Homo sapiens: one gene and its partners. The protein of the gene in region 2 purifies or fractionates together with the protein of the main gene of each other region. This does not show direct contact. Each region holds a gene or a part of one and is shown on either strand. Other genes may lie near its edges. The genes, in order: EIF3CL, MFSD6, DCTPP1, ITIH3, FNDC3A, MRPL19 and THUMPD3.

Evidence for each region.
Region 1: the proteins of MFSD6 (region 2) and EIF3CL purify together in Homo sapiens (affinity purification with mass spectrometry; one large-scale study listed by BioGRID and IntAct). This does not show direct contact.
Region 3: the proteins of MFSD6 (region 2) and DCTPP1 purify together in Homo sapiens (affinity purification with mass spectrometry; one large-scale study listed by BioGRID and IntAct). This does not show direct contact.
Region 4: the proteins of MFSD6 (region 2) and ITIH3 purify together in Homo sapiens (affinity purification with mass spectrometry; one large-scale study listed by BioGRID and IntAct). This does not show direct contact.
Region 5: the proteins of MFSD6 (region 2) and FNDC3A purify together in Homo sapiens (affinity purification with mass spectrometry; one large-scale study listed by BioGRID and IntAct). This does not show direct contact.
Region 6: the proteins of MFSD6 (region 2) and MRPL19 purify together in Homo sapiens (affinity purification with mass spectrometry; one large-scale study listed by BioGRID and IntAct). This does not show direct contact.
Region 7: the proteins of MFSD6 (region 2) and THUMPD3 purify together in Homo sapiens (affinity purification with mass spectrometry; one large-scale study listed by BioGRID and IntAct). This does not show direct contact.

What each region holds. Positions count from the first base shown.
Region 1 is NC_000016.10:28,397,342-28,400,841, reverse strand, and holds part of EIF3CL (eukaryotic translation initiation factor 3 subunit C-like protein), read left to right. Parts: intron 1-172; coding exon 173-227; intron 228-355; coding exon 356-465; intron 466-843; coding exon 844-971; intron 972-3,500. UniProt on the Homo sapiens protein: Component of the eukaryotic translation initiation factor 3 (eIF-3) complex, which is required for several steps in the initiation of protein synthesis.
Region 2 is NC_000002.12:190,488,355-190,491,854, forward strand, and holds part of MFSD6 (major facilitator superfamily domain-containing protein 6), read left to right. Parts: intron 1-302; coding exon 303-464; intron 465-1,413; coding exon 1,414-1,512; intron 1,513-2,259; exon of another isoform or gene 2,260-2,464; coding exon of another isoform or gene 2,465-2,483; intron 2,484-3,500.
Region 3 is NC_000016.10:30,423,115-30,427,030, forward strand, and holds the end of DCTPP1 (dCTP pyrophosphatase 1), read right to left. Parts: intron 1,420-3,916; coding exon 1,119-1,419; 3' UTR 501-1,118; downstream 1-500. UniProt on the Homo sapiens protein: Hydrolyzes deoxynucleoside triphosphates (dNTPs) to the corresponding nucleoside monophosphates. Has a strong preference for dCTP and its analogs including 5-iodo-dCTP and 5-methyl-dCTP for which it may even have a higher efficiency.
Region 4 is NC_000003.12:52,807,047-52,809,297, forward strand, and holds the end of ITIH3 (inter-alpha-trypsin inhibitor heavy chain H3 isoform 4 preproprotein), read left to right. Parts: coding exon 1-59; intron 60-539; exon of another isoform or gene 540-676; coding exon of another isoform or gene 677-700; coding exon 701-870; exon of another isoform or gene 871-903; intron 904-1,063; coding exon 1,064-1,175; intron 1,176-1,471; exon of another isoform or gene 1,472-1,505; coding exon 1,506-1,635; 3' UTR 1,636-1,751; downstream 1,752-2,251. UniProt on the Homo sapiens protein: May act as a carrier of hyaluronan in serum or as a binding protein between hyaluronan and other matrix protein, including those on cell surfaces in tissues to regulate the localization, synthesis and degradation of hyaluronan which are essential to cells undergoing biological processes.
Region 5 is NC_000013.11:48,974,470-48,978,711, reverse strand, and holds the start of FNDC3A (fibronectin type-III domain-containing protein 3A), read right to left. Parts: upstream 2,801-4,242; 5' UTR 2,535-2,800; intron 2,051-2,534; exon of another isoform or gene 1,795-2,050; intron 1-1,794. UniProt on the Homo sapiens protein: Mediates spermatid-Sertoli adhesion during spermatogenesis.
Region 6 is NC_000002.12:75,656,783-75,659,744, forward strand, and holds part of MRPL19 (large ribosomal subunit protein bL19m), read left to right. Parts: 3' UTR 1-2,962.
Region 7 is NC_000003.12:9,380,054-9,383,553, reverse strand, and holds part of THUMPD3 (tRNA (guanine(6)-N(2))-methyltransferase THUMP3), read right to left. Parts: intron 3,052-3,500; coding exon 2,936-3,051; intron 356-2,935; coding exon 245-355; intron 1-244. UniProt on the Homo sapiens protein: Catalytic subunit of the THUMPD3-TRM112 methyltransferase complex, that specifically mediates the S-adenosyl-L-methionine-dependent N(2)-methylation of guanosine nucleotide at position 6 (m2G6) in tRNAs.

The DNA of each region.
Region 1 (3,500 bases), on a different chromosome or scaffold from region 2:
ACACTTACTGAACTGGGAACAGTGACCCCGTGACTGAGGCCCAAAGATGGAATTGCTAGTGGGAGGTGTGACTGGAGCAGGAAGATGACAGAACTGTCTGGGGTGGAGGGGTGGGGTGGGCTGATGGCTGGACAGCGTCCATGATTGTTCTCTCACTTCCCTCTCTGTCCAGAACCCCGAGCAGTCTGCGGATGAAGATGCTGAGAAAAATGAGGAGGATTCAGAAGGTGAGCCAAAGAACCTTTGTTGCAAATAGGAAGTCCAGAGTTAGTGTTGCCCTTCGCCTGGTTTCTTGGCTGCCCTCCAGTCTGGCTTTTCAACATTCAGGATCTTTTTCTCCCTCCATTACCACTAGGCTCTTCAGATGAGGATGAGGATGAGGACGGAGTCAGTGCTGCAACTTTCTTGAAGAAGAAATCAGAAGCTCCTTCTGGGGAGAGTCGCAAGTTCCTCAAAAAGATGGATGTAAGAGCCAGGGTTAGATGGATGATTTCCTGCCAGAGGTAGTTCCTGAGTCCCTGGGGGAAAAAGACAAGACTCAAACCCCTAGGGTTGGGAGGGGTGGAATTTAGTGGAGTTGAGAACAAGCTTCCTCTTACATCAGAGCAGTGGGCAAACAGGGATCTGGGCCCAGCTCTGCCAGGGGAAGCTGTGTGTGTTCCTGCGGCCAAATTGCAGCATCACTCTGGGACTTGATGGTGAGTCCCAGCCCTTGGTATCTTGATTCCATGAGTAGCTGCTCTTGTTCTACTCATGTAAATAAATCTCGAACATGCGTTAGTAAGGAGGAGACACCAGTCAATCTCCCTGTCTTCTTGCTGATCCTCTTTTCTTCCCTCTAAGGATGAAGATGAGGACTCAGAAGATTCCGAAGATGATGAAGACTGGGACACAGGTTCCACATCTTCCGATTCCGACTCAGAGGAGGAAGAAGGGAAACAAACCGCGCTGGCCTCAAGATTTCTTAAAAAGTAAGGAAAGTAGTGGGACCTAGGGTTACACTGGAACTGGTGGAAAGCTCTTAATTGTCTGGAAGGTTATTGATTCTTCCATGGAGTCCTTTTAGGTTGGAGCAGCCAACTGTTAGCATTTTACAGTAGGATCAGAGAGTCAAGTACATTAGTTGGCTAAAGTCACGAAGCTAATGTGTCCTAAAGATGAGAATTGAAGGCTCCAGAGTCCAAATATTTACCCACAGCCTTACTCACTGCGTGTGGATTGGGTGCAAATCTCACTTTGGCACCCGATACCTGTGTGACATTGGACAAACTACTTAGCCTGTCTAATCTTCAGTTTTCTCATCTGTAAAATAAGGCAGGGAACCCTCCCTTCCAGAATAGCTGCAGGAATACAGGGAGGTGTGATGTAAGAAAGTAGTTCATCTAGGACTGACGTGTGGTGAGCCCTCAGTGTGCGTTGCTACTGTGTTACCCTTCCTGATAACTTCTTAGTACACATACAGCATACAGACTGCCGCAAGTGTTCATGACCTTTACTGGGACAGTCAGAATAGGGGAGGATCCCAGTGTGGATTCTGTCTCCCAGCCTTTATCAGCTGTACAACATTGTATAAGTTACTTGACCTTAAGTCTTAGTTTCTCCCTTTGAAGTAAAAGTGATACCTGCTCTTTTGTATCCCATGGGAGTGAAATCTCAAGCTCACTAAAAATAGTGCTTTTATTTATTTTTTCTTAGCCAGTTTGCACAAACTACAGATAAAAAGTGCTTTTTTTGAGACAGGGTCTCACTCTTCCCAGGCTGGAGTGTAGTGATGCAATCTTGGCTCACTGCAACCACAACCTCTTGGGCTCAGGTGATCTTCCCACCTCAGGCTCCTGGGTAGCTGGGACTACAGGTACACTCCAGTACATCCGGCTAATTCTTGTGTTTTTAATACAGACAAGATTTCACCATGTTACCCATGCTGATCTTGAACTCCTGGGCTTAAGCGATCCTCCCGCCTCAGCCTCCCAAAGTGCTGGGGTTATAGGCGTGAGCCACTGCACCCAGACAAATAGTACCCTTTTAATGGGAAGATTATTGCTCTCAAGGTTGCTTTCCTGTGTTTAAAAGTTGTGGTCGTGCTGCTTTAGGGAGGTAGTGAGTTTCCAGCCCTCTAGAGGTCTAGAGAGGCTGAACAACTTACTTGGTGGGCATTTTGTTGAGAAGGCCTTTTTTGTCCAGTGCTTCAGGGAACACTGGTCAAGGTCTGGGCCACATTGTCTATCACACCCCTTCTTGGAGGGTTTACAACCACCTCTGGAAAGTTCCATGAGAATAAATATACCTAACTTTGTTTTATTAACCATCTCAAAAACTTGCTTGATCATGAAACTCGTTTTTTTAACCTGTTGACATCTTACAGAACTATCAGCGTTACTATTGGTTCAGGTCTTTTATATCTACTGTACTTTGTGTTTTTGTCTTTGAATAATTGTGTATTGAAGTCTCCCATTGTGTGGACTCCGGTGTGTGATGTGCACTGCACATGTGTGTTACACAAAGGCTCCTGTCTGAGGGAGCAAATGGGGCCTAAAATTAAACTTAAGACATCAAGGCTGGGCACGGTGGCTTACGCCTGTAATCCCAGCACTTTGGGAGGCCGAGGCGGGCAGATCACGAAGTCAGGAGATCGAGACCATCCTGGCTAACACAGTGAAACCCAGTCTCTACTAAAAATACAAAAAATTAGCCAGACATGGTGGCAGGCGCCTGTAGTCCCAGCTACTCGGAAAGCTGAGGCAGGAGAATCGCTTGAACTGGGAGGCAGAGGTTGCAGTGAGCCGAGATCGTGCCACTGCACTCCAGTCTGGGCGACAGAGCAAGACTCTGTCTCAGAAAACGAAACAAAACAAAAAAAACTCTAAGACTATAAAGCTATACTTTTATAAATACAGACTCAAAAGTTCTTAACAACATAGTAGAAAACCAAACACAGCAACATACAATAAGGATTATATGGGAGCACCCCCTCCTTGCCTGTAGGGGGATGGAGGATGGGTGGGCTCATCTCCCAAAAAAGTTTTAAAAAAAAATTTAATAACAAGGAGGATTTATCCCAATAATAGAAGGATGTTTTAATATGAAAATCAACTAATATACTATATCAATAGAATAACAGACAAAAGCCGTAGAGTCATCTCAGCAGATGCAAAAAAAAGCATTTGAAAAAAATCCTAATATTCTTTCATGATAAAAGACTGAAGCTAGGAATAGAAGGGAGCTTCCCTCTACCTGATAAAGGATGTTTATGAAAAGGACGTTTCCTGTCCTTTTATTTTTAACTCTGCCATGCTGTATGATTAAGAGTGTTTCTTGGCTGGGCGTGGTGGCTCACGCCTGTAATCCCAGCACTTTGGGAGGCGGAGGCAGGCAAATCACAAGGTCAGGAGTTCGAGACCAGCCTGGCCAACATGGCGAAACCCCATCTCTACTAAAAATACAAAAAAATTAGCCCGGTGTGGTGGCCTGCGCCTGTAGTCCCAGCTACTCATGAGGCT
Region 2 (3,500 bases):
TGGTGGTTGTCAGGGGATGGGACAAGGGGTGAGTGTAAGTTATGGTTTAAGGGGTACAGAATTTTTGTTGTGGTGGTGAAAAAGTTCTGGAGATGGATGGTGGTGACAGCTGCACAACACTGTGAGTGTACTCAGTGCCACTGAACCGTACATTTAAAAATGTGAAAATGGTAAATTTTTAATGTATGTTTTCCCACAACAAATCTTAAAAATAGGTGCCTAGTTAAATAATTCACATTTCAAAACAGAGTAGCCTAAGAAATGCTAACCAACTAATCCCTCCTGCTCTTCTTCCTCTCCAGGAGTGACACACGCGGCCATCTGGGCAGCATGCATTTCTTACCTCAGTGCAGCCGTTCCCCCTGAGCTGAGGACATCTGCTCAGGGCATCCTGCAGGGCCTTCACCTGGGTTTGGGAAGAGGATGTGGTGCCATGATCGGAGGCGTGTTAGTCAATTATTTTGGTAAGAATGGCTTTCTCCTTTTTTTTCTTTTCTATTATTAAAACATGATTTTTTCCAGCAATACCTCAATAAACAATCCAATTATTACTGAAGATTGCCCAAAGCTAAATTCCAGTATTCATAATCTCTTTCTAGATTTCATGGTAGTCATAATTGTAAAGCAGTGTGCTTACGTTGTTAAGCTGATCTGAGCCAGCCTGTAACTGTGCACACTCCTCTGACAATCAGCTTAATGAGATGCTACAGAGATCCCTCAAAGGAGCCAAACAAATGAATTAGCATGAGTGCTTTTGGTCTAAAATAAGGTACCTTAAACCTGCTGATAATAACCCTAAAGGAAATAAAATTCATCATTGTTATTCCATTAGGAGATTTTGAACCAGAAGAATCTAACCATATGCTGGCTTTGGTAATGCTACTACATTTATGGTAACAATATCTGTCTGTCTTGTCATATCTTCCTTATTAGAAACATAGGAGCTGAAATAGGAATGAGATTATTCTGCTCCAGGAATCTTAACTACTCAGTCATCTATTAATATATAAGGTGGGCCCCAGGAAATGCGTGCATTTATAGCACTATTTGAGCACTGCTGTTCCAACTACAGATTAATAGTGCTGTTAGTTAATAATTGGGTAAATGGTCTTTTCATATGAAGAGGAGAGCACCATTGAATTGTATGAGTCATGGTGAAAGGCACTGAGAGATAATCCTATATAAATGCAGTTTTATAATCGATCAATGACAGATCCAATATCAGCCCTGGGTCTCTTGACACGTACCCAGCCCTGTGTTTTTCCATTATGTGGAGCTAATACCCAACTACTTTTCTCTGGTTTGTCTCAAGCTGTGCTTCCTTTGCTTTGATCTTTAGAAAACTGATGGTTTTAGATGAGCGCTATCTGCATTTCTTGGAATTACTCTATAGAGTGCTGTTTGTTTTTATAGGGGCTGCTGCAACCTTCCGAGGAATTGGCATGGCCTGCTTGGTGATCCTACTGCTCTTTGCCCTGATCCAGTGGCTGGCAGTGCCAGATGAGGAAGAAGGTAATTATTTCCATTCTTTCTTAATATTCCTAACAGTTCAGGCCATGGGAAGTCAACAAATGCCCCGAGAAGCCTAGAAGTGGTACAGAGTATACAACAGGTCTGTTTGGCTCAATTTTCTGAGTGGCGTATCGATGAATTCATGTGGACTATTGTTAAAGAGATCCACCTACTATGCAGAAAAAATATTGTTTTAAGTAGCTTGGGGTTTTCTTGTTTTTTGTTTGTTTGTTTTCTTTTATAATACAAGGTACTAGGGAAGTATTAGTTTTCAATTTCTCTGGTATTCTAAAGGTTTTTCAAATTTAAGTCAAATACATATAAGGCTATACAGTCATTTTGCTACTAGGGATAGGGAGTGAGTGGTAATCTTCTCTATGACTTACCTTCATTTGTTAAAAAAAAAAAAAACAATGGCCGGGTGCAGTGGCTCACGCCTGTAATCCCAACACTTTGGGAGGCCGAGGCGGGTGGATCACGAGGTTAGGAGATCAAGACCATCTTGGCTAACACGGTGAAACCCCATCTCTACTAAAAATATAAAAAATTAGCCGGGCACGGTGGTGGGCGCCTGTAATCCCAGCTACTCAGGAGGCTGAGGCAGGAGAATGGCGTGAACCCAGGAGGTGGAGCTTGCAGTGAGCCGAGATAGCACCACTGCAGTCCAGCCTGGGGGAACGAGCAAGACTCCCTCTCAAAAAAAAAACAAAAAACAAAGACAAAAATGTCAAGACCTGAAATCTGAAGTTTTCTCTGAACCAGGGATGCCTTTATTAAGATTGTTCTACCAAAAGGAGGTTATATCAAATATTAATATGTAGATGAGAATGAGCTGACTCAACTTTTTATGAAAAAGGTCAACCAGGAGGATGAAAATATTTTTGCTCAGTTTTTTGGTCCCAGAACAGAGCTCATCTTCTTTGGGTGTCCTATCCTTTGCGGAGCATTAGCCTCAGGCCCCTGAAATGCTTCTGTGAAGAGAAAAACTTGCTTGTTACAGAAGCCTCAGAGACAGATTTTAATCTCAATGAGTTACTCAGAAAGAGCAATACTGTTTTTTCTTACTTTTGTTCTTTTATAATCCTAAATGGATTCTCTCTCTTACACAGCCTCAGTCCATGCCTCATGTAAAAGACCAATAAAAATAACTATCATGGCTCTCCCAAAGTTATAAGATGTAGTTAAAGTTGTATTTTGAGAAAAATGTATGGACTTGAATATCTTTGCTATTAATCACAAAAAAATTTAAAATCATTAATTAAACATTCAATGTAAGAAACATAAAAATAAGCAATCAAATTTTAACTCATCTTTGATTAGTGAGAATATGGTACTGGGTTAGTTTTTAAAATACTTGTGTTCTGGAGAGACTGTTATTGGGAAAATGGCAAGATAGGAGGCAGGATTAGGTTGCAGCTCACACTCAGGTGGACCGAGTAGCATGTGGAGACTTGCATCATGCTTTTGCTCCAGAACTACTGCAGGAATATACCAGGAAAGCTGAGAGAATACACAGACCCTCTGAAGGAAGCATATTGCTCCTGGAGGACCTGAGAGACAGGCCAAATATTGGGCTGGTATCCAGCTGAGAGACCTAAAGATGGTTCACATCACAGGACTCTATGCAGACAACCCCAGTACCAGCCTGGAGCCTGGTAGCCCTGCTGGGTGGGCTAGATCCAGAAGAGAAATGACAATCACTACAGCCTGGCTGTCAGGAAGCCACATCCCTCAGAAAACAGGGAGAGTACTACATCAAGGGAACACCCTGTGGGACAAAAGAATTGAACAGCAGCCTTGAGTGCCAGCCCTTCCCTCTGCCATAGCCTACCCAAATGAGAAGGAACCAGAACAACAATTCTAGTAATATGACAAAACAAGGTTCTTTAACCTGCCCCAACAAAATCACACTAGCACCAGCAATAGATCCAAACCAAGAAGAAATCTCTGACTTCCCTGAAAAAGAATTCAGAAGGTCCATTATTAAG
Region 3 (3,916 bases), on a different chromosome or scaffold from region 2:
ATAAAAAGGCAAACGACTGGGCACGGTGGCTCAGGCCTGTAATCCCAGCACTTTGGGAAGCCAAAGTGGGCAGATCACCTAAGGTCAGAAGTTCAAGACCGGCCTGGCCAACATGGTGAAACCCCATCTCTACTAAAAATACAAAAAAGTAACCGGGCGTGGTGGCGGGCACCTGTAGTCCCAGCTACTCGGGAGGCTGAGGCAGGAGAATGGTGTGAACCCGGGAGGTGGAGCTTGCAGTGAGCCGAGATCACACCACTGCACTCCAGCCTGGGCGAAAGAGTGAGACTCCGTCTCAAAACAATAAAAAAAAAAGCTGGGCGTGATGGTGGGCACCTGTAATCCCCGCTACTGGGAGGCTAAGGCATGAGAATCGCTTGAACTCAGGAGGCAGAGGTTGCAGAGAGCCGAGATCATACCGCCGCACTCCAGCCAGGCCTACAAGAGCAGGACTCTGTCTCAAAAAAAAAAAAAAAAGGAAAACAGGTAATAACAGTAACTGCAAAACTTACCAAGTGTACTTTACTATGTGCCAGGCCCCGCCCTGAGCATTCACATAACTCATTGAAACCTCACGACCCTATTGGGCAGGTACTATTCTTTTTATTTGATAGACAAGGAAGCTGAAGTGCAGAACGATTAATTTGAGTAATGTCATTTAGCTTGCAAGTGTCAAAGATGGCATTTGAACCCAGACAGCCTGGCTCCACCATCTGGACTCTTACAGCCTTCAATCTCTAAGAGGGGGAAGGAACTTACATGACATCCTACTGGGAATTTGCTAGAAACCAGATCTCTCTGCCCTGCAGGCAAAAGGTACAACAGGGAAACACGAGAATGGGTCTCAGAGGCACCCCTGGTACCCCCGTCATCACCTGCTGAGACAGAGAGCCTCCCTGGCCATCCAGGAATAATCTAGAAGTTATCGCCCAAAACCATTTTACTGGGAGAACAAACACCAGGAGGCTACCTTCTAGAGGCTGCTGGGCCTCAGACCTCAAGAAGTGGAGGCCTCAGGCCCATGATCTATTCTGAAAAGACTAGAAAAAGGCTCCAGGGCCAGGCCACTCTCTGCTCTTCAGACACCACCCTGAGTTGCAAGTCCTGTGGCCATCTTTCTAGGTTGAGGTCTGGCCTGTGGAGTCACAGGGAATGTCCGCAGGCCCCACAGCCTGGTCTTCAGAGATGGCCCCATGGGGCAATTCTGTATACTTGCGGGAAGAGCTGCGGGCCAGATGGGCTGGGTAGCGTCGCCGGTTGATGTCCATTTTGGAGAGCACTGCTAGCGGCAGATCCACACGGCAGCGGGCTGCTAATGCCACCAGGTAGATGAGGACGTCACTAAGCTCCTCTTGAAGGGCTGCCCGTTCCCTGGGGGACCAGCCTTGGGGGCCAGGTTCCCCATCGGTTTTCCACTGACTAGGGGCAGAACACAGACAGACACACACTCAGATGTAACCTGGGGCAATGGGCTCTGCCAGTCCTTGCAGTAATAACACCCACCTCCAAGGACGACCTAACCAATCTGGGCCCTGGGAAGAGTCAGGTGGGGAAGAGACCCCGACAGATGATACCAAGATGTCTGTGTCTCTCCCTGGGCCAAGGAGTGGCCAAAAGAATGTTTCATCTGTTGAGACAAAGCTTTGAGGCCCAATTCTAATTCTCTCCAGCCCTAGCCGTCACCACCACAGACCAAACCTCGGACCTGGACCACTGCAGAAGCCTCCCCACTCATCTCCTGGCTAGCTCATCTTCTACTCCTGCCCAGACCATCTTTTCTATTTTTTGAGACGGAGTCTCGCTCTGTCGCCCAGGCTGGAGTGGAGTGCAATGGGGCGATACTGCAACCTCCGCCTCCCGGGTTCAAGCGATTCTCCTGCCTCCGTCTTCCGAGTTGCTGGGATTACAGGCATGTGCCGCCATGCCCGGCTAATTTTGTTTTTCTAGTAGAGACAGGGTTTTGCCATATTGGCCAGGCTGGTCTCGAACTCCTGACCTCAGGTGAGCCGCCCTCCTCGGCCTCTCAAAGTGCTGGGATTACAGGCATGAGCCACCGCACCCGGCCCACACCATCTTTTAAAAGCACAAATCAGGCTTGGCGCAGTGGCTCACGCCTATAATCCCAGCACTTGGGGAGGCTGAAGCGGGTGGATCATGAGGTCAGGAGTTCAAGACCAGCCTGGCCAAGATGGTGAAACCCCGTCTCTACTAAATATACAAAAAAATTAGCTGGGCATGGTGGTGGGCACCTATAATCCCAGGTACTCAGGAGGCTGAGGCAGAGAAATTCTTGAACCCAGGAGGCAGAGGTTGCAGTGAGCCGAGATCGCACCACAGCATTCCAGCCTGGGAAACAGAGCAAGACTCCGTCTCAAAAAAACAACAAAACAAAACAAAATGAAACAAAAAAAATTGGCTGGGTGCCATGGCTCATGCCTGTAATCCCAGCACTTTGGGAGGGTGAAGTGGGTAGATCACCTGAGGTCAGGAGTCCGAGACCAGCCTGGCCAACAAGGTGAAACCCCATCTCTACAGAAAATACGAATTAGTTAGGCATAGTGGCGCATGCCTGTAATCTCAGCTACTTGGGAGGCTGAGGCAGGAGGGCAGAAGAATCGCTTGAACCCGGGAGGCGGAGGTTGCAGTGACCCGCCATGACGCCATCACACTCCAGCCTTGGTAACAGGAGCAGAACTCCGTCTCAAAAACTAAACAAAACAAAACAAAACGAGACCCCACAAATTGTATTTTTCCCCTTCTCTGCTAAAATACAAACTGTGCTTGGAATACAATCTAAACTCTTGACAAAGCCCTCCTGTCCTGCATGGGCTGACGCCTGCCTTTTCCAATGCCACTGCCCCCCACTCTCACTCCCCGCCTAAGGCCACTTTGGCTTGTTCTGCCTTGCACACAGGCCAGACTGTCACAGGCCTTTTGCATTCACTGCTCCCTCTGCCTTGAATGCTTCCCCATCCCCCATCATTCCCAGGGCTAGCTCCTTCCTGTTATTCAGGGCTCAGCCTAGATGTCACCTCCTGGCTCGTCACCTTGTGTGTTTTTTGTTTGTTCGTTTTTGTTTTTGACAGAGTCTTGCTCTGTCGCCCAGGCTGGAGTGCAGTGGCACGATCTTGGCTCACTGCAAGCTCCGCCTCCCAGGTTCACGCCATTCTCCTGCCTCAGCCTCCTGAGTAGCTGCGACTACAGGCGCCTGCCACCACACCCAGCTAATTTTTTGTATTTTTAGTAGAGATGGGGTTTCACCGTGTCAGCCAGGATGGTCTCGATCTCCTGACCTCATGATCCGCCTGCCTTGGTCTCCCAAAATGCTGGGATTACAGGTGTGAGCCACAGCACCTGGCCGGTTTTTTTTTTTTTTTGAGACAGAGTCTTGCTGTTGCCTAAGCTGGAGTGCAATGGCGTGATCTTGGCTCACTGCCAGCTCTGCCTCCCGGATTCAAGCGATTCTCCTGCCTCAGCCTCCTGAGTAGCTGTGATTATAGGCGCCTGTGACCACACCCGGCTAATTTTTGTATTTTTAGTAGAGACAGGGTTTCAGCCTGTTGGCCAGGCTGGTCTTTTTTGTTTTGTTTTGTTTTGTTTTTTGAGACGGAGTCTTGCTCTGTCGCCCTGGCTGGAATGCAGTGGCACAATCTTGGCTTACTGCAACCTCTGCCTCCAGGGTTCAAGCAATTCTCCTGCCTCAGCCTCACGAGTAGCTGGGACTACAGGGGTGTGCCACCATGCCCAGCTAATGGTTGTATTTTTTAGTAGAGACAGGGTTTCACCATGTTGGCCAGGCTGGTCTTGAACTCCTGACCTCAGGTGATCTGCCTGCCTCGGCCTCCCAAAGTGCTGGGATTACAGGTGTGAGCCACCGCACCTGGACCTTTTTCGTTGGGTTTTTTTTTTTTTTGAG
Region 4 (2,251 bases), on a different chromosome or scaffold from region 2:
AACAGGGCCGTGCCGAGCACTTTCAGCTGGCTGGACACAGTCACAGTCACGCAGGATGGGTAAGCTCCCCTACAAGGTCTCCAAGGTGGACTACAGGGTGAGAGTCTAAGGAGGCTCTTGAGGGATTTAGAAAAATCCCAGGACAGGAGATCCATGGGGGTCACAGGAAAGATCAGAGACCCCAGAATCCAGTCTCCTGTCACAGGGGAGGGTGACCATAGTGGCCCCCAACCAAACCCTGGGGCCCTATCAGAGCCAGAATTGGTAGCTGCACAGTTCAGCTGGTTGGGTGAAGGCATTAGGTGATAATGGCCCCCATTTGCCTCTTCTGTGGCTGCTCTTGTCTTCTTAGCTCTCCTGTCTTCAGATCCCCCAGAGCCTCCCACTGAGGCTCAGAGAAGGTGTGGAGCCTGCCCAATGTCACTCAGGAAGTCAGTGGCTTAGCTGAGGCTGGACCACAGGCCTCCAGATTCATAGGCCAGCCCTCTCTTTCCCACTTATAGACACTCAAGGATCCACTCACGGGAGGGGAGACAGTGTGCATGAGGCATCCTCTTTCCAACGCCCCTGAGATAGTTTCTGGAGTCTGTGGGCCCTCGGGTGCCATGTACAGGGGAGGCCCCACCAAAACGCCCTTGAGTCAGATGCCCAGTGTCACGGCCACTGGGCCCCACAGCCACTTTCTGGCTTCCTCTCGTAGGCTGTCCATGATGATCAACAGGAAGAACATGGTGGTCTCCTTTGGAGATGGGGTTACCTTCGTGGTCGTCCTACACCAGGTGTGGAAGAAACATCCTGTCCACCGTGACTTTCTAGGCTTCTACGTGGTGGACAGTCACCGGATGTCAGCACAGACGCATGGGCTGCTGGGTACGAAGTGTTCAGACTGCAGGCTGTTCAGGCCTGAGAGCAGCATGGGAAAGACATACACAAGGCCTTCCTAGGCACCCTGTACCCAGCTCACAACACCCCATTCAGCCTTTGCATCAACCCTGAAAGGCCAGTGGCCACGTTACCCGTGGCAATGGCCAGGGGCTGACAGCATGAATATTTTTCTTCCCAGGGCAATTCTTCCAACCCTTTGACTTTAAAGTGTCTGACATCCGGCCAGGCTCTGACCCCACAAAGCCAGATGCCACATTGGTGGTGAAGAACCATCAGCTGATTGTCACCAGGTGAGGAGACTTCTCCCACACCCTCACCTGCTCAGCAACGAGAGGAGGAAAGAGCACCTGCAGCCCAGGCACATTAGTCTGGTGGGCTTTTGTCTTCTGTGGGGTACCCTTGTTTCCCTTTGAGGTCTTGGCCCCTCCCAGGCTCTTGCTAATCAAGAAAAAGCCCAAACTTGGCTTCCTCGAAAGAGTAATCATGTAACTTCATTCTTGACCAAAGAATTCTGGGCTGTTAGAATTGCCAACTTCCCACCCTTTTTCAATCTCAGGTCCGCTAGCCTAGCAGCCATCTTACCCACCCCGTGTATTGCAGCATCTCTCTTCTTTCCCCAGGGGCTCCCAGAAAGACTACAGAAAGGATGCCAGCATCGGCACGAAGGTTGTCTGCTGGTTCGTCCACAACAACGGAGAAGGGCTGATTGATGGTGTCCACACTGACTACATTGTCCCCAACCTGTTTTGAGTAGACACACCAGCTCCTGTTGGGATGGATGGCCCGGATTTTATGGCATCTGGAACATGGGCACAGAGAGGGGCCTGTGGGAGGGGCTGGGAAAATAAAGTCCAAGGTCGAGACCAGACAGCTGCCAGCCTCTACATGCCTTCATGAGCCTCTGCTCCAGGGAACAGGCAACTGGGACCCACAGCAGCTCAAAAGAGGGGATGGCTAGCAGGAAGGCAACTTCTTGGGCCTCTCCACTGACACAGCTGAGAGACAGAGTTGGTTGGACTAGAACTTTAGGGATTCAAATGTATGACAGCTTGGGGGAAAAAATAAAGAACTGACTCTGAAGGAAAGGGGCTCTGAGAAGTCAGGAAGGGTTGAATGTATTTCAGTATCCAGGAAAGTCATAAGATAAGTAAATGGTCCCGGCTCAGGAGCTCCAATCAGGACCTTTAGAAGTAGATAATACTCCAGTGCAGATACAGCCCACATCTAAATGGGGATGTCAGCCACCCTTCCATCTATCCATCCATCTATCCACCATCCATTCACCCATCCCTCCACCCATCCATCCATTCACTCACCCACCCACCCATTCACCATTCAACCATCTGTTCACCCACGTATCCACTCA
Region 5 (4,242 bases), on a different chromosome or scaffold from region 2:
TTATTTGAAGTCCGCTAGGCAATGCTAAAAACAAAACAAAAAAAACAAAAGCAAACAAAAAAAAACCAGAAACACTAATCACTTAGTTATCTGGCTAATAAAATTGGAAATCATGTGCATATCCCTACACCATTCTCAAAGACACGATCTAGATTCATTTTCATTCAAAAATGCACCAACAATGTTTCAAAAAAAAAACGTTTTTGGTTACTTCATCAAATTGTATTTTAAAAATACTGGCAGATTATAAAATACACAAGCCTTGGATGTCATGAACATCTTAAAAAATGCAAATGTTTTAAAACAGCGCAAATATTACTAAAAATTGATAAAGTATAAATTAAATGCTCTTTGCCTAAAACTACAAAAGACAATGAGAATATGAATCATGCATTCCCTCTTTTTTTCGGGGGGTTAAGGATGTCTCAGCCCTTAGCTATGTCTGGCTGGTCAGGGAAGAGGGAGAAATTTTTAAATTAGTAATAAAATATGCTTACTATTATATTGTAGAAATGTGACTAGTAAAGAGTAATCATTACATGTGTGTTAAAATAAATCAGGTCTCAATTACTCACACAGATAGAGGAAGTGAAGACACAGACGTCACCAAAAGAAGATAATCCTAGAATGTTTTTTTTAATGCTTATTATTAATTTGGGATAAATTAATTACCCTTATAACTATGCTTGACAGTGTTAACCAGGATTTTATTTTTCCGGAGCATTCAATGATTTGGAGGATTCAGACAAAAGGGAAAAAGAGGGAGTTAATTCAGAAGCATACAGGTGGCTAACGGTAGCCAGCCTGGGATAAAAAATTTTCCAGTTAACCTACACATAGAAAACTAACAGATGATCTATGAAATGAAACAAGACAATATAGTAAAATTTAATGTAGTAGTGCTAAAAAATTTAAATATAAGATTTAATATTAAAATTTTAACAAGATGTTTCTCCTGTCATCATCCCTTCTTCCCACTAACTGGTGTGATTAGAAAGCAAGATTAGTAGGCTACAAAGCTAAAAGCAACATTTCAGGTTATATTTCATAAAAGATGTGGTAAAAATCCTTCATCACTGTTTTCTGTTGGGCCACCATCTGTCTCAGTGAGTACTTCATCTCATTACTTAAGAAAAATTAATTCAACCAAGAAAATATCCAAAAGACAGGGGATTCAACTCACTTGAACATTTGTGGGTGACACAAGATGACAAGAGTTAGTAAATACGCAAAAACTAAATATTTATCCAAACATAAGATCAGAACCACAAAACTCAATTCGTTTCTGCCTAACATATGGCTCAAACTCCTGAGTGGCGTATGTTTAGTACTGGAGCTGGTAACAGCATGGTGATAAAATATTATAGTAAGAGTTCAACTGTTATTTCATTCCTACAATACAGAAGCATACACACTTTGGTTTCAAGAACTAAAAAACACAGACCACAGTAAGAAGCAAAATAATTACGTTGTTCGGTTTTAAAAACCCATAGTGAACACATAATGATTATACCGCAAAAAGAAAAAAAAAATCTCATCAGCCTGCGACTCTTATTTAATAGATGGTCAGACACAAAGGTGTCCAAAGGAACTTACGTAAAATCTCACAAAAGAAAATCTCGAATTCACAATCTCTAGCACCCCCAGCAAATCATCGCATTCCACCCTCTAAAATATCCCAAGGCTTGTAACGCTAACAGTTGAATAAAAGAACAATTAACGACCACATCCATTAAAACAGTCCCTCTTCTGCTCGCAATCTGACAGCGAAATTATCTGTTCATTTTCCTTTACCTAACACATGACGTCGTTTCCAAAGCCGTGTCAAAAGTTCGAAGATCCAGGTTGTTAAAACCGGGCGAGGACTGCAGCCTCGAGTCCACCTCCCGACTGAACAGGTGGTTAACTCGCCCGGGGAGAGGAACTGCCAGGTACTGGAAGCAGCCACGCAGGATCAAACAGAGGGCGGGTTTTCGAGGTTTTAACCCCAAGATGAGCGGGGAAAACTCTCTTCAGAAAAGCGTTCAAGTTCGGCGGCTGCCGGGCGGCCAAAGCCGAAGGCGCCGCGGGTGCTGGGCGATCCTCTCAGGAGGATTCCGCCCCAGCCCCCGCCCCCGCCCCCGCCCCCGAGCCCTCCGGAGCTACGCGGCTCGCCGCGGGGAGGAGGCGGGGGACAGAGAGAAGGGCCGCCCGCGCACCAGCGCCACCTCCCTCGGGCTAGATGCCGCCTCCTCTTGGGCTGGATGGCGCCCCCGGCCGCGCCCCCGCAAGCGTGTCCTGGCTAGGCTCGGCCCCGGCAGGTGCCCGACTAGTAGACCGGTCCTGTCCCCGGCCCCACTGCCCCTCTGCACCTCTGCCCACAGCGCGCCCACAGAAGGGGGTGGTCCGCGCCCCTCGACGGGGCCGAGCCCTGGAGAGTGCCCCGGCCCTCAGTCCCAGCCTAACGGTTTCCGCGGCGCCTCCTCCGGGGCGGGACGGGGTTGGGACGGCTCGGTGTCCCCCGCCTTTCGCGGAGGGAGTGCCCGCGCTCTCACCTCCGAGTCACGCCGTTCTGAGGCAGAAGGCGGCTCCTCTGGCGCCTCTTCTTAGGGTTCCTGATCGTTGTCTCTCTACCTCAGCTGCAGAGTCAGCTCTCAGGGCCGCCGCGGCCGCCGGCGCGCTGACTGTTGGGGTTGTTTCCTGGCAGTGACGCCGCCGCCTCAGCCCCGCTCTTCGCTCCCTCTCCGCGTAGCTCCCGCTTTCTGTTTCACCCGAGGGACCACGAACGCCGCCGCCGCCATGCTTACTACGGAGCCGGGAGGAGGAGCCCGAAGTCGGCGCGCCGAGTGCGGCTGCGCGGGCCCCGCCGACGGAGCCCGCGGCCGGGACCCCGAACCCCCGCCTCGAGCCCGCCGCGCCGGGGCTCTCTCACCGGAACGCGAGTCCCCGCGGGGCCACCGGCGCGTGGCGGCTGAGCGGCCGCGTTTGGCTCCCGGAGCGCCCACACCCTCTCGGGCTTCCGGCTTTCTCCCGAGGCCCGGCTGCGCCTGGCTTGTGGTAGCATCCGCTGTGGCCAGGCTCGGAGCTACACTCAGGAAAAGTGGAGTTAATGGAGGTTCCTAGAGACACTCACACAATTCTCAATCCACATTTCAAAAGGCTCCCCTGAGACGCACCCTGTCGGCCCCTTTCCGAAAGCACGCGAACTTAAGGCTGGCAGGTGCTTTAAAAGACACTCCTCCCAAGGACTAGGAAGCCTCTGAAATGGGCTTGGAAGTTTCTAATCCCAAAGACTTCGAACCCAGGATCTGGATAGCAAGCAAAAATATTTAGATATTTACTCAGTTGAAAACGTGGGGGGTGGCTTCGTGGTCTCTTCGCCAGCCAAATCGCGTGGAAAACCACGACCTCAATTTTTACAACAGCACGAAGACTTACAAGTGAGCGTAGCAGCGACTTCCTGGAACCTCAAACAATGTGGGACGCTGCAATAATGCCTGAGGGCTTTTGACTTACAGTTGCCGCCGGAGACCTGGGGAGGGGGTAGTACTTGGGCCGGTGAGTCCAGCCTCAGGAACTGTCCTTTCAAAAATGGTGATGGATGTAACAAGTTGCATGTCTGGGCTTTATTTCAGTGTATTAATTGTGCGATCTTTTAAAATAGCTGTATTTTTAAAACTGTTTTACAGAAATCTCTTTAAAATGTGATTATTCTCTATATTCTTAAAGAATACAATGGCTAATTAAATCCTTTGTTGATAACTGACTCTCAAACCGATATCTTGGCCATACGTTTAAGTCCCAGAGGATTGCTGCGGTGTATAGAATCCCTACTTTGGTGCTCTCTTTTTTTCCCTCTTTGGAATGTTCTCATCACCTCTTCTAAAATCCTTCACTGCTTTTCATCTCCTCATCTGCCTCTATCCACTCTGATCCTTCCTCTTATTCTTTCTGCTTTACTGTTTATTTTTCATTCTTCTCTCCTTTCTCGGCTGGTTTTCTCTGCGGCTCCAGGTGAAGATTGATGGGATGTTTATGTCCACAGCCAGCTAATGAGAGGTTTCTTTTCTTCTGGTTGTAAATAGGGCAGTGGTATCTTGAGATATTTTCATTGCTCTTCACTATCAGAAGTTCTTTCCCTGTGAGAGATGTTTCCTTTTCTTAACTTTTGGATTTGGCCCTCTTCGAGACAGCTGGCAAGTTGATCTTGGAATAATTGAAGTATAACTGTATATTGTTTCAAAGTATGAGGATTTTATCAGA
Region 6 (2,962 bases), about 110 Mb from region 2:
TAACTCATTTCTGTCAGTTCTGGGAAACACTTAGCATTGGTTGATGATTTATTCTCTGCTGCTTTGTTCTCCCAACTATTATTTGGATGTTGGATATCCAGCACTGGGTATCTATTTTCTTACCTCCCTCCCTTGACCCCAGTCTCTGTTTTTTAGCTCTTTAGCTCAATCTTCCAACTCTTTGCTATTGTATTTTAAAATCTTAAGACCCCTTCTTGATTTGTAGAAGTTCCTTTTCTTACAACCAAAAAGCCTTTATCTATGGATTTGTTCACAGATAAGGGGTATTCAATATAGTGTATTTTTTTTTCATTTAAAATTGTTTGCGCATCTATTTCCTCCAAATTTCTTTCTGTATTTATTTTTTGTTGTCTATATTTCAGACTTTTCCAGGATATCTGATAATCTTTGGCTGTCTTCTTATGGTTGAAAGAGGGACTAAAAAGCTTGGAAAGCCTTTGGGTTGTGGGAAGGGGCTGTCTTTAGGATTATCTGAATGGGCTTTTTTGGGAGTCCCCTCCTCCACATGAATATTTTGGTTTTGTCAGATTCCCTAGAATAGAGGCTTCCAATCTCCTTCCTGGAGGGGTCTGTCCAGGAAGGAGATTGTCTAGGGGTCTGTCAGACAGCAGCTTTCAGCTACTTCCTTGATCTTTTTCACTAATGATTATATAGTCATCTAACTACTGTCAACAAGTAATAGATATCCTATCCTTCACTTGTTTAGATTATTTGCTGAGATAACCTCTCAAAAGAACCTCTCAAAATAAAAGGTTAACAAGAGCCTATATCTTATATTTTTCTTCTCTTTATCTTGTTAGAAGATAGCTATTAAAACCTGTTCTTTTTCTGTCTTGATAAACACACTTCAATCTTGGTAGAATGGTAGATGGGACAGTATATTTTAGGACCTAAAGCTCTGCAAATGTATGATCAGCTTGTAAGTACAGGTGCTCAAAAACATGTAAACAATCATGCTTTTTACTCTGTAGGAATATCTTTAAAATTCTTGTGAATTTTTCCCCAGAAGTAAAGCAAATCTTCCCCCAGAAATAAAATTAAATGTGCATAATCTAAAGCTTTTTTTTTTTATTGTGGTAGGATATATATATAAAACATAATTTGCCATTGTAAACATTTTAAATTTACAAGTCAGAGGCATTAATTACATCACAATGTTGTGAAATTATTACTACTATTTCCAAAATTTTCTCATCACCCCAAACTGAAACTCTGTAACTGTTGAGCAATAACCTCATTCCTGTATCTCTCCCAACCCCAGGTAACCTCAAATCTTTCTTTTTATCTTTGAGACAAGGTCTCATTCTATCACTCAGGTAGGAGTGCAGTGGTGTGATCATAGCTCATTGCAGCCTCAAAATCCTGGGCTCAAGCAATCCTCCTTGAGTAGCTAAGACTATAGGCACACATTAACTGCGCCTGGCTGATTTTGTTTTTTGTAGAGATGTGGTCTTGCTATGTTTCCCATGCTGGTCTTGAGTTCCTGGCCTCAAGCAGTCCTTAAGATTCATCCATGTTGTGGCATGTGTCAGAATTTCATTTGTTTTTATGACTAAATAATATTCCATTGTATGTATATACATTTTGTTCATCCATCTTCTGATGAACACTGGGATATGTCTACCTTTTGGCTATTGTGAATAATGCTGCAGTAAACATTGACATAACAAGTATGTATTTGATTGCCTGTTTCTAAGTTCTTTTGGGTATACATCTTGAGTAGAATTGCTAGATAATGTCATGTTTTATTTCTCTTGTGATTTCTTCTTCGATCCCCTGGTTGAGTGTGTTAATTTCTACATGTTTATGAATTTCCCACTGTTTTTTTGTTATTGATTTCCAAGTTCATTCCATTGTGATTAGAGAAGATACTTAGTATGATTTTAATGTTTTTGAGAATTGGTGTGTGGCCTGATAGATGGTCTGTCCTGGAGAATGTTCCTCATACACTTGAGCAAAATATTTATCATGCTATTGTTGACTGTAGTTTTCTATATGTCTCTTAGGTCAAGGTGGTTTACAATGTGTTAAGGTTCTCTTTTTTTAAAAAAATTTTTGCACAGAGTATCTTTTTCTATGTGTTCCATGTATTTGTGTCTTTGGAGCTATAGTCTCTTGTAGACAGCATATCACTATCTTGTTTTGTTTTGTTTTTTCTGTCCATTCTGCCAATTTCTGCCTTTTGATTGGAAAATTTAATCCATTTGCATTTAAAGTAATTAAGGAAGGACTTTCTTCTACCATTTAACACTTCTTCTATATGTCATATACTTTTTTGGCCCCTCATTTCCTCTTTATGGCCTTCTTTTCTGTTTTTTTGTAGTGAACTAGTCTGATTCTCTTTCCACTCCCCTTTGTGTATATTTGTTAGATGTTTTATTTGTGGTTGCTATGGGGATTATAGTTAACATCCTACACTTAAAACAATCTAATTTAAACTGATACCAATTTACCTTCAATAGCATACAAAATCTCTACTCCTGTAAAGCTCTGCCCCTGCCCCCCTTATGTTATTGATGGCACAAATTGCCTAATAAATAATTTATAGTTATTTGTATGAGTTTGTCTTTTAAATCATTTAGGAAATAAAAAGTGGAGTTAGAAAACAGTATGATAGTAATACTGACTTTTATATTTGTCAATATATTTATCTTATTTTGGATCCTTATTTCATTATATAGATTTGAGTTACTGTCTAGTGCCCTTCCATTTCGGCCCAAAGGATTCCCTTATGCATTTCTTGCAGGGCAAGTCTAATTGTAATAAACTCCCTCAGCTTTTGTTTTATCTGAGAATGTCTTGATTTCTCCCTTATTTTTGATGGATAATTTTGCCAGATACATGAATTTTTGGTAACAGTATTTTTCTTTCAGCACTTTAAATATGTCATCCCACTACCTTCTGACTTCATGGTTTCTCATGAGATATTAGATGTTATAAA
Region 7 (3,500 bases), on a different chromosome or scaffold from region 2:
AATGGGCTAGAAAGTGAATTACAGGTAATTTAAAAATGAACCTCCCATGATGGTCAGGATTCCAAATGTAGTTAATACATTCCTGAGTTCTCGGAAGAAACATAATGGGTGAATCCATCATGTTGTTAAGTGAAAAACAGCTCTGCTAAGTCTGCTAAAATTCAAGATTTTTTTCCTGACTTAGAATAAACGCAAGGAAAATAATGACATATTTAGAAGACAAGCAGGTACTAGTATTTCTCACCTTTTTCCAAATGGCAAATCTGTTACAATAATATCCACAGAGCCAGTTCTCAATGGCAGATTGCAGATATCCCACTGAACAGCATCTATGGGCAAGCCCCAGGAGGGTTTGCTGTGGGGACAAAGGAAAGGTGCTTCAACATACTGTGAAGCATAAAGTTATTACAACAATTTTTGTTTCTGAAGAGAGACTGCTACAGCAAAACATAAACTGCTAAGGATATCAGTGATAATATCAACCTATTCAAAATTTAAGAAATGGCACAAAGGTAAAAAATAGGTCAGGCTGGGCATGGTAGCTTGTGCCTATAATCAGCACTTTCAGGGGCTGAGGTGGGAGGATCACTGGACTCCAGGAATTTGAGACCAGCTGAGCAACACTGTGAGACCTTGTCTCTAAAATACTTTTTTAAGAAGTTAGCAGGGCATGATGGCACACACCTATAGTCCCAGCTACTCAGGAGGCTGAGGTGGGAGGATCACTTGAGTCCAGGAGTTGAAAGATGCAGTGAGCTAGGATTGTGCCGCTTTACTCCAGCCTGGGTGACAGAGCAAGACCCCCGTCTCAGAAAAAAGGGAAACAAACTGAAAACATGATTGTAATGCAGAGAACTGCAAAAGACAACTTTAAAAACAATGCTGAAGCAGTAAATTACATAACCGATGATACAAAAATTTAAGTTGCTGATAAAACATACACTGGAGAAAAACAATACTAAAGAATAGATAATGGGGTGATGTATCTGAAGAATAAAGTTTGTAAAACTAGTAATAACAGGAGGCCTAAAAGAAAAACAGATAGTAAAATTGGCAAATATATAGGTAATTGTTTCAAGATGAAAAACCAAAAGGAAAATATGTGCCATGCTATATAAAACAAGACTAAGAAAAAAGTTAAGATAAAAAATATAGATGACAGAAGACAGAATGAATAATAATAAATACAAAGGATTTAAATCCTCCTCATTAAGGCAAAGCAACTGGTTTAAGAAACAAAATAATGCACAGGCTAAGAACTGAAGATAAGTCAAAGGTTATCAGCAGAAATTAAGGATTTAATTGACATTTAATGAAGAATTTAAGAAAAAAATGCAATAAAAGCAATCATTACATAATTTTTAAAAGTACACATAAAATATGTATTATAACCGCATACCAATAACTGCACAAAACAAAAGGCAAAAAATATTAAAAACCAAAGTAAAATGGATAGAAATGTACAGGTTGAGGCCGGGCACAGTGGCTCATGCCTGTAATCCCAGCACTTTGGGAGGCCAAGGTGGGCAGATCATGAGGTCAGGAGATTGAGACCATCCTGGCTAACATGGTGAAAACCCGTCTCTACTAAAAATACAAAAAAAAAATAAGCCGGGCATGGTGGCGGGTGCCTGTAGTCCCAGCTACTTGGGAGGCTGAGGCAGGAGAATGGCGTGAACCCGGGAGGCGGAGCTTGCAGTGAGCCGAGATCAAGCCACTGCACTCCAGCCTGGGCGACAGAGTGAGACTCCGTCTCAAAAAAAAAAAAAAAAAAAAAAAAAAAAAAAAAAAAAAAAAGTACGGGTTGAACAGACAGTGTAGGTACAAACAAGATAAAATATTCAGAAGCTAGAAAGGTACGTTTGTTTAAATGTTTATCAGTTTTAATTAAAAAAAAAAAAGACTGGCCATATACTAGGCTCATTAAAAAAAACCCTCAATAAATATGAAACAACCATTCAAAATTAATTCATCACAATAAATCAGTATTTAAGAAAATTGAAGCCTTCCAACTACTTGTCTTAATACACGTAAAAGGATTTAATGTTGATACATAGACCAGCAGCATCAGCATTGTCCTGGAGTTTCCTGGAAAATGCAGACTCTTAGGTCCCATCCCAAACTACTAAATCAGATCTGTGTTAACAGTACTCCTAGGTGATTCACATGTACATTAATGTTTGAGAAGCACTGTCCTAAAAAATTAGATCAGAGAGACAATGAAATATATAACCAATGACTTAGTAATAAAATAGAGGCGAGGCTATATAAACTGCAGTATTTCTATACGATGGAATTTATGTAGTGACTTTAAAGACTATGGTCCAGGTGTGGTGACTCGTCTCTAATCCCAGCAATTTGGAAGGCTGAAGCGGCAGAATCTCTTGAGGCCAGGAGTTTGACACCAGCCTGGACAAAACAGCAAGACCCCCATCTCTACGAAGATTTTAAAAAATTAGCTGGGCATGGTGGCACATGCCTGTATTCCTAGCTACTAGGGAGGCCAAGGCAGGAGGATTGCTTGAGCTCAGTAGGTTGAGGCTACAGTGAGCCATGATCATGTCACTGCACTCCAGCCTGGGTGACAAAATGAGACCCTGTACCCAAAGCAAAAAAGAAGCCTATGTAAAAATATACTGTTTAAAATTTTGTGAAATTAAAATGAGTCTATAAAATATTCTTCCAATATGTAGGGGAAAAGACATATGAATAAGACAAATGAAAAATTGCATATGGTGGGGAAATTATCGCTAAAATAATATTTTAAAAATATAACTTATTTTCAATAAACTTTAAAAATGTAAATGGAGTCTCATAGTATATTCATTTTGGTTACAATGACGTCACAATGCACTGGGAGTTTTAATTCATAAAGTCAATATAAAAAGTGATTCTCTAACTCTAAAAGATGCTAAGAAATCTTTTAAATTTTTACCCTTCTTTAATTTGGCTCTTGGTCAATAAAGATGCAATGTTATTTGCTGCTCTATTCACAGCCAGTGGATTATTATCACCAGCAATATGGAAACAGTCAGACCATTCAGTGGCCCCCTAAAAGATAAGAGTGTATGTTAAAACAAAAGTAGCAAACTGTAAAATATGATTAAATTGTCAACAAACAAAGAAAATCCAGTGCTTTTCTAGAGTGGCAAAACATTGCATGTTGTCAACTGTGCTATTTCCCTGGCTGAAAATGCCCTCTTATTCTTTCTCTGCTTGCTGAACCTCTACCCATCTCTTAAGACCCAGCTCAAACCTCATGCCCTTTCAACATCAACCTTAACTCTCCAAGCAGTCTTATGTGCCCCTCCCAAAAACACTTTGTATGTACGTACCTCTGCCACTGCACTTGTCCCACGGTTAATTATTTCTTCCCCTTTATGCCTCTCAACTAACCTGGGAGCTCTCTGAGGTCAGGTCTAGTATTTTATTCAGTTCCTCATCCAGCAGTGTCTGGCACACTAAATTCTAAGTTAATGCGGTTTGAAAATATTTGAGAT